Regions from separate parts of the Homo sapiens genome. Here region 1 is linked to region 2. A link means that fine-mapping ties the variant in region 2 to the expression of a gene that starts in the linked region. Tissue or cell type: sigmoid colon. Region 2 holds a variant in brackets; the other region holds the start of a gene. All regions are shown on one strand. Distances are from middle to middle.

Region 1 (4,491 bases), 450 kb before region 2:
TGGCAGTCTGGTCCCCAAAGTGGCCAGCCTTGGGGGATGAGTGGATGGGAGGGCTCAGCTAAGCCTCAGCAAACCCAGGCTCCCTGGAAGGTGGGAGTGGGGGCACTTGGTGGGTCACAGGGCCAAGTTGATGAAGTCACCCACTCTGCCAAGATATTACTCCAGCTGACGCTCACCAAACTCCTTGGGACTGAGGAAAAATCAGAGGTGCTCAGAGCCTAATTATAATAAACAGTTTCCTGTGCAGCTCCTGGAGCCCCCCTGGGAAATGTCCTGTGGAAGATGTCTTTGTCTCAGAGCCTGCCATCTGGCGCTTTGGCCCAGGAAGGTGGGGACCAACAGGCATCCCCCCCTTGGGCCGCTGCTCCTGGAGCGCAGAGCCTCAGCATCCTGCACCCTCAGATGGAGGTCAGAGAAAAATAGGCTGGGGGAGAGGAGGTGAGGGTGGGATCATGTGGGGTCATGTGCAACTGGGCTGGTGTCAACAGCCACTATCTTTGAGGTGATGGCCCCGATGTGGGTTGCTCTATCTTCCAGTCATTTCTATGGGTCTTTCCTGGACTGACGCATGGGCAGGGCTGCTGAGAAAAGCTGTGCCTCTGCCCCAGCACCCCCTGACCCCATCCATCAAGTCCACCCTCCAGTTGGGAGAAACAGCAGTGACCATCACATGGTAGGGAGTGAGTCATCTACCAAGTGGTACTGACCATGGTCCTCTGGGGCCCTGAGGAGAGTGTGTGTTCTGTTGGCCAAGGCACTCAGGGAGTGTGTCCTGAGAAGTAGCCCAAGATGGCATGGAAGATCATAGAAAAACAAAGAGGGAAGAGGCTCCGGCAGGGAGGCTGCACAGGAGTAAAGGTGGGCAGGGGATTAGGTGGGGGCTGTGATGGATGAAGATTGTCTGTTCATGGGCCAGTGGTCTTCAGTCCACCAGCCCCGGAGAAACTCTGTTCTACTCCTTGCTTGAGCTCTGGGCTTTCAAGGTCTTGTCTGTCAAGGTGATCATGTGGATCAAAGGAGAATTAAATTTTCTCCATTTTTATTCATCAAAGAAATGATTATGCTGGTCAGAACTGCTGAGGGCAGCTGAGCAATGGCAGGGAGGCTTATGTCGGGGAGGCCTGGGGAGGCAGTGAATCGTAGACCTCACCCATTCCCTTCTCTGACACCCCCCGCCCCCGATGCCTGCAACTCACTTTCTTGTGGCATAGCTCAGAGCTCCAGGCCTAGAAAATCAGAGGAAGATCCTGGGGGCCCAAGAGGGAGGCTGGGGACAGGTGGGGAGCGGGTAGCTCAGCCACTCAGTCTGGATGCCTGTCACCTTCCGTTCTGGCTGGCCAGCCACATGAAGGGCCCATTCTGCTGCCCATTCACAAGGGGCTTTCATCTCTGCAGCCAGTGAAGCATTGCTCCCATCTCAGCCAGCAAGGAGACACAGGGGAGGGGGTGTGCAGACTTGCCATGACCTCAGACTCCATGCTGGAAAGGCATGGCCCTGGGCCAGGGCATCCTAAGCAGCCCATCTGCCCCAATCCCCCAGCTTCCAGGCCACCAGAGTCCTCAGCAAGGGGGATCTGAGTAAGAGATGGGCAGTGACTCCCCAACTCTTGTAGAAACCTAGTCCTCCCATTTCAACAAGGGTAAGGCTGACCTCTCTTCCAGCTTATTCAGGGCAAAAGATGGCCCTCCCATCACAAGAGGGGCAGGAGTCCAGTGGGTCATGGCTCAGCCCCCTGCTCCTTTCCCAGGGAGCAAGGTAAGTATGGTGGCCTTCAGGACAGGGCAGGAAGACCAAAGCCTGAACCCTTGCGCAGCCATGGGAGAAGACAGCACATTAGAGGGTAGCCCCTGAGACCCAGGAGAACAGGGACTGACTCACGGTGTCCTTCCAGGGAGGAGGGAGGCAGTCATATCCACAGCCCGCCCTTGAAGAGGGGCGAAGTGGAGCTGGCAGGGCTGCTGGTAAAAGCAGCACCCCCGACCCCCACCCCTCAAGTCCATTCTCCAGTTGGGAGAAACAGCAGTGACCATCACATGGTAAGCAGTGAGTGGTTCTGTGAGCTGGGCCTCCTGAGAGTGGACCCTTTCAGCTGTGGCCTGTCCATCTGTCCAGCAGCCACAGCCCCTGTGATGTCACCAGCCCACTGTGTTGCTTGGCAACTTTCCAGGATTAGCATTCTGCCCCTCTCATCCCTGACATCCCACCATAGGCTGATGTTGCCATGGCAACCCGGATAGATGCTGCAGCTTTTTGGACAGCTGTACCTAGTGTGGGAAGTGCCAGGCAAAAGCAGGGAAGCAGGTGCCTCTCTACAGGCCAAGGGGGGTACCCAACCTATACGCAGACCCATTGAGCAGCCAGACTGCCCTAAACAGGGCTATGGAGTCCTTGTCCCTTCTAAGAGCTGTGGACACCTTGCCTCCAGTTCCCCTCACAGTCCTTTCTTCCTTCTGCAGTGATCACTGAGTACCTGTGTGAATGCCAACAAGAAAAATAAAACCACAGTTTGGATTCAGGAAAGGTTGCACCACCATCAGGTCTTGAAGGGTGAGTAGGAGTCCGCCAGATGCAGGAGTGGATGGAGACAGGTTCTAGACAGAGGAAGCAGAAGCCTGTGCAAGGGCTGAACCACTGTCTCCAGGCATAGATTACACCCTGCCTCTAGGTTCCTCATGGCCTGGCCTCTCCATCTTTCCCACTCAATACACTTTATGGTGGGGATAGGGTCCAGTTCAGTTCCAGACACTTAGTGCCCAGCAACAGGCCTGGCACCAAGCCAGCACGACTAAAATGCCAAGTAAAATTCAACATCAGGGCCTATGACCTCCCCTAGTACTAACCGTCTCAGCAAGTCTGTTTCCCCATCTGTGAAATGGGGCCAGTTTTGAGAAGGCTGTGGGCAGGGGTTCTCAGGTACAGATGGGGTGATGTTTTTCTTTTGGTTCTTTTGGTTTGTAAACCACTTCTTTCCCTTACAGAAAAAATTGGAAGACTAGTACATGGACATCTGTGACCTTCAGATTCCCTAATTGTTATATTGCAGCACTTTTGCTTTATCTCCTCTTTGTCTTTTTATCTAGCTATGCTTACCTATATGTATAATTTTTGCTGAACCATTTGAAAGGAAATTGTAGCGGACATTCTGACGTGTTTCTTCAAACACTTCAGGCCACGTCAACTAAGGACAGTCTGATACAACCACAGTAGCATTATCACATCTAAGAAAATTAACAATAATTCAATATTCAGAATAGGGCAGGAAGATCAAAACCTGAACCCATGCCAGGTGCTGAGAGCAGATGAGGGGCATCAGAGGGTGGGCGCCCGAGCCGAGGGGTGTCGGGCGCATCCGCTGCCCAGCGGAAGCGGCGGCCTGAGTGGAGTCACCGTGCAATGGGTGGGTGTGGCTTTGTGAGCCAAGCCCCAGGAGAACCAGAACCCACCTTTTCCTCAGTGCCCTGACCAGCTGTCCCGCAGCTGTGGCTTAAATGCCAACTTCCAGTTCGTAAATTTCTTCAATTATTCCTCCCCAAATTATTTACATATGTATATGTATTTAAATCAGGATTTAATCAAAGTTCTCACGCTGCATTTAGCTGTTTCGCTGCTTACTCTAAAAGGGCACAGGAGGGAAGATGGGTGGGTAATGGAGCCTAGAAGAGTGACGCTCCCTGGTCGGCCCTAATCCTGCCGATCGGGGCATATGCTGGAACATCCCAGTCCCACTGTCCTGGGCGGAAGTAACCGAGACCTGGAGTTGGTGGGTAGGTAAGGGTTCAGGCTGGGGAGGTTCGCGGACGGAAGCTCCCGCCCTGCGGTGCCGGATGGCCCCGCCCCTTAGCAACGGCCTAGCGTCCCTCCCTAGAGACGGGGCTGATGCATCCCCGCACTGCTCGGTGGAACCGGTACGTCGGTGAGGCGGAGGGGTTGCGGGGCCAGCGCGGGCAGCGGGACCTCGAAAAGGCGCGGAGGGCGAGTGGACGAGGGTGGGGAATGGGGTCTCCCAGGAGTCTGGTTGCTGAGCCTTGGCCAGGGGGAAAGAAGGGAGGTGCACTTTATTTTATTATTTTTGAGACGGAGTCTCGCTCTGTCGCCCAGGCTGGAGTGCAATGGCGCGATCTCGGCTCACTGCAACCTCCACCTCCCGGGTTCAAGCGATTCTCCAGCCTCAGCCTCCTGAATAGCTGGGATTATACGCACCCGCCATCATGCCGGCTAATTTTTGTGTTTTTGTAGAGACGGGGTTTCACCCTGTTGACCAAGCTGGTCTTAAACTCCTGACCTCGGGTGATCCGCCCGCCTGGGCCCAAGTGTTTGGATTACAGGCGTGAGCCACTGCGCCCGGCCTGGAGGTGCACTTCAAACAGCCTTGCAGTGAAGTCCTGTACTTGCCAGACCAGTTTTTGGGCCCCATCCCCATGCTGAGCACGTGGCAGTCCCATCAGCTACCCAATCCTTCTCCAGATCCCTACCAGAGTTGTTACAGAGGT
Region 2 (4,491 bases):
GCTGGAGTGCAGTAGTGCAGTCTTGGCTCACTGCAACCTCCACCTCCCAGGTTCAAGCGATTCTCCTCCCTCAGCCTCCTGAGTAGCTATGACTACAGGTACATGCCACCACAGCCAGCTAATTTTTGTATTTTTAGTAGAGATGAGGGTTCACCATGTTGGCCAGGCTGGTCTTGAACTCCTGACCTCAGGTGATCTGCCAGCCTCGGCCTCCCAGAGTGCTGGGATTGCAGGCATGAGCCACCGCGCTCAGCCTTAACTGTTTACTTTAAAATGGTTAATTTTGTTATATAAATTTCACCTAAAAAATTCTTAAAGTTATTACAGCACTGACTTTGTGAACAATTTGACAGCCCAATTTGGATAAAGCTAAATCAATCACCTTAACCAGTATTCTTTCTTTACAGTAAGGAATTAATTGTACAACAGAATCTCTAGTAAAGCATAATCATTTCACACAAAATAATTTGCTTAGATGGCCCATTTTTCTAAGTGCAGTTTCTAAAACACATACCCTTTAAAAAGAAACGTACCATTATATATGTCTGGGAGCCCTCAGAAGAGAGTGGTTGGGGGTGGATTACTTCATGATTTGATTCTGCCTCTCCAGAAACCACTGTAGCAAAAGGCTTGGATTGAGAGTCACCATTTTTAATGTTATTTTTGGAGGTTTTTCTTTATAAAGAAGAAAAGAAAGAGTTATTATCAATATACTGAAGATTAAGGGTTTTTAGGTATATGTGGGAGTGTGTGTATACAATGAATTCCCTTACAGAACTGCACCATTTATAGAGAATAGTTTTCTAAAAATCTAAGGGGCATCCTACAAAACACCTCACCAGTAGTCTTTGAAACAATCAAGGTCATAAAAAATAAACAAAGTGAGAAACAATCACAGACCCCTGATTAGATGTACTATATCCTGGATTGGATCCTGGAACAGAAAAGAGACATTAGAGAAAAAAACTGGTGAAAGCCAAAGAAAGTCTGGAATTTAGTCAATAGTAATATTTTTCTTTCTTTTTTTAAAAAATTGAGACAGAGTTTCACTCTGTCATCCAGGCTAGAGTGTAGTGGCGTGATCTCAGCTCACTGCAACCTCCGCTGCCCAGGTTCAAGTGATTCTTGTGCCTCAGCCTCCCGAGTAGCTGGGACTACAGGTGCACGCCACCACGCCCGGCTAATTTTTTTGTATTTTTTTTTTAGTAGAGACGGGGTTTTGCCATGTTGGCCAGGCTGGTCTTAAACTCCTGACCTCAGGTGATCTGCCAGCCTCGGCCTCCCAAAGTGCTGGGATTACAGGCGTGAGCCACCATGCATGGCCAAGTCAATAGTAATATTTCGATGTTGGTTTCTTAGTTTTGACAAATGCATTAGGGTATGTAATCTGGTAATCACAGAAGAAACTAGATGAGGGGTATACAGGAACTCTCCACTCTATCTTTCCAACTTTTCTGTTTATACAAAATTATTCCAAAATAAAAATTCTATGGGAGATTGCCTCACATACGGGAGTATCAGGTTAATTTTCATTTTCAAATTTTACATGTCTGTAATAATACCACAACTGCTTGGCTAACTTTGAGAGTAAAACTGATTGGTACACTTAGTCCTGCTTATAGAATAAATGCATACAGGAATAACATCCCCAACTATTTTAGTATGTCATTTCTAAAACTGGGCTAAACCTCTGGAGAATTCAAGAGGAGCATGGAGATCAGTACACTGGAAGGCCAAAGGTCTGCTTGGTGGGAAATTATGTACACAAAAAGATGGTTCTTCTTTATTCCCTGAGGCATCTCTAGCACTGCCTCCTCTCTTTCCAAATTTAACATGCCACAAGGCAAGAGGAGAAGCCAAACAGATTGTAATAGTTTTGTCCAGCCCTAAGTCTTAGATCCTGGAACACCTGTTTAGTAAAGGTAGGATCTGCAAGCCAAAGCAAGGAATTCTCTTGGGAAGTTAATGTGAATGAAGAGGGAACTTTATGCAAGCTCTCAGAAATGTGAGCACTACTTTTTAAATATTACTATCTTACACAGTAAGATGTATAGGTTTCTCAGATAATCTCTAATTATATGATTTCTAAAACATATGCCCTCTTTTTTTTTATTATTATTTGGCTGCTCCTTGAGAACAGGACTAACTCATAGGCAGTGAGCCCAGAGTAGTGCATATGTCCTTTAAAAAAAAATTTACACTATATGTCTTAGAACCCTCTGAGGAATGTGACAGTGGTTCTCCAAATTTCTGATTTTAGCAATTAAGCAAATTTCAACATGTATTTGAAGACTGGGAGAATATGCCACGCCAAAATATGCTACTTTGGCATAAAGATTATTTTGGGCTAAGGTTCTTTAAAAAGTAAGTGCAAGCTTTGGGAGGCCGAGGTGGGCGGA[C/T]CACGAGGTCGGGAGTTCAAGACCAGCCTGGCCAACATGGGGAAACCCTGTCTCTACTAAAACTACAAAAATTAGCCGGGCACGGTGGCGGGTGCCTGTAATCCCAGCTACTGGGGAGGCTGAGGCAGGAGAATTGCTTGAACCCGGGAGGCGGAGGTTGCAGTGAGCTGAGATCATGCCACTGCACTCCAGCCTGGGTGACACAGCAAGACTCCATCTCAAAAAAAAACAAACAAAAAAAAGTAAGTGCAAGAAGGGCACTCTGATCTTCCCTTTTTCTTCCAGAAAGCAGAAGATAAAACTCCCATATGAAATACGTCCTCCCTGTACCAGAAGGAAAGTAACATTCTTATTATCAAGAATGGAAAGCTGAAACTGAGAGAATTCTATAAACAGACCTTATTAAAATAATTCTTATCTTCCTTTAGCCTCTCCACCTAGTTTACTTTTCCACAATTGCCTCTCTTTGTTCAATCAAGCAAAAAGCATTTAGGTTTTGCCACTTCTTTGTATTTTTAGTAGAAGTTAGGTCTTCATTTCCTTATGAGGGCTCCTGTGTCACATAAAACTTATTCAGGTATTAAAGAAATCTACATGCTTTTCTCCTGTTAAATTATAAGTTTAATTCTCAAGCTCAGCCAAGAAACCCTAAGAGGGTAGAATTTTGCCTCCTCTACATATGTAATCATGCCATTTTATTTCTTGTTTTTAAGAAAACTCACCATTAATTCTTGCATATGAATATTACAGAAGCCACCCTCTTTCACCCCATCTATTTAGCCCAGCTATTTGCAAGGGAAGTATCTTACATCTTTGTGGCCTCCAAAAAGAAGGAGATTTGCCGCTTTATATAAGGCTGCCTCAGGATGCTCCTCACAGACGGCCTTTCTTCAGGCCTTTTGCTCAGCATTGTTCTTATCAGTTCTGCCAGCTCTGGGCTGTAATCTCTTGGCATTGGTGGCAGCTACAAATAAAAATAATATTGTAATTATGACTAATGGTCTTGTGAAACAAAGTAAAAGCTGGTAGAGGTTTCCCAATATTTATTTATAGTCATATGTCCACATAAGCAGAAAACAATCAGTATATTAGTCTACAGGAAGTGTACTGGTATCCCAGTTGTAAGATAACAAGTTGTAAAATTATAAAAGTATATCCTCCAACCCAGCAGTCCCATCTGATGACACTCTCATTCAGAAATAAGAGTATGAGTTTCCTAAAGACTTATGTATCGGGATGTTCAATGCAGTACTGTTCTTGCAGTAGTAAACAATTGGAAACATAAATGTCCCTTAGGGGATTTGTGGAATAAATTATCATGCATTCTTCTTATAAAAACTAGGGCCAGTCGCAGTGGCTTACGCCTGTAATCCCAGCACTTTGGGAGGCCGAGGCAGGTGGATTGCCTGAGGTCAGGAGTTTGAGACCAGTCTGGCCAACATGGTGAAACCCCGTCTCTACTAAAAATACAAAAAAATTAGCTGGGCGTGGTGGCATGCACCTGTAATCCCAGTTACTCAGGAGGCTGAGGCAGGGGAATTGCTTGAACCAGAGAGGTGGAGGTTGCGGTGAGCCGAGATCACGCCACAGCACTCCAGCCTGGCAACAGAGCGAGACTCTGTCTCAAAAAAAAAAAAAAAGAAAGAAAAGAAACGAAACTAGGCAGCAGGTTAAAAAATACAAGACTTGGGCCGGGTGCAGTGGCTCACACCTGTAATCTCAGCACCTTGGGAGGCCGAGGCGGGTGGATCATGAGGTCAGGAGATGGAGACCATCCTGGCTAACACAGTGAAACCCCATCTCTACTAAAAATACAAAAAAGTGGACGGGCGTGGTGGCGGGCACCTGTAGTCCCAGCTACTTGGGAGGCCGAGGCAGGAGAATGGCGTGAACCCGAGAGGCAGAGGTTGCAGTGAGCTGAGATTGCACCACTGCACTCCAGTCTGGGCAACAGAGTGAGACTCTGTCTCAAAAAAAAAAAAACTTGCAGGTACCGACTTGGAAGGATGTGTTCCTCATATATTAAGTCAAAAAAACAAGTTATGTACCATGTGAACAGCCTGATTTCAGTTTAAGAATCTGTGGGTGTGCG

What was found. PIP is the estimated chance that this variant, and not a neighbour inherited with it, causes the effect.
Region 1: it holds the start of DNAH1, and the variant in region 2 is fine-mapped to the expression of DNAH1 in sigmoid colon (GTEx, PIP 0.94).

What each region holds. Positions count from the first base shown.
Region 1 is chr3:52,313,998-52,318,488 of GRCh38, forward strand. It overlaps DNAH1 (dynein axonemal heavy chain 1), which reads left to right and starts at 2,322. Exons shown (of 78, transcript NM_015512.5): 1 at 2,322-2,548. RefSeq lists enhancers at 1-19, 2,836-3,774 and a silencer at 3,713-3,942.
Region 2 is chr3:52,760,262-52,764,752 of GRCh38, forward strand. It overlaps NEK4 (NIMA related kinase 4), which reads right to left. Exons shown (of 16, transcript NM_003157.6): 5 at 3,209-3,363; 6 at 534-675. Among named protein-coding and RNA genes, the nearest start is that of NEK4, 8.4 kb to the right of the region's middle. The variant C/T (reference allele first, on the strand shown) is at 2,400.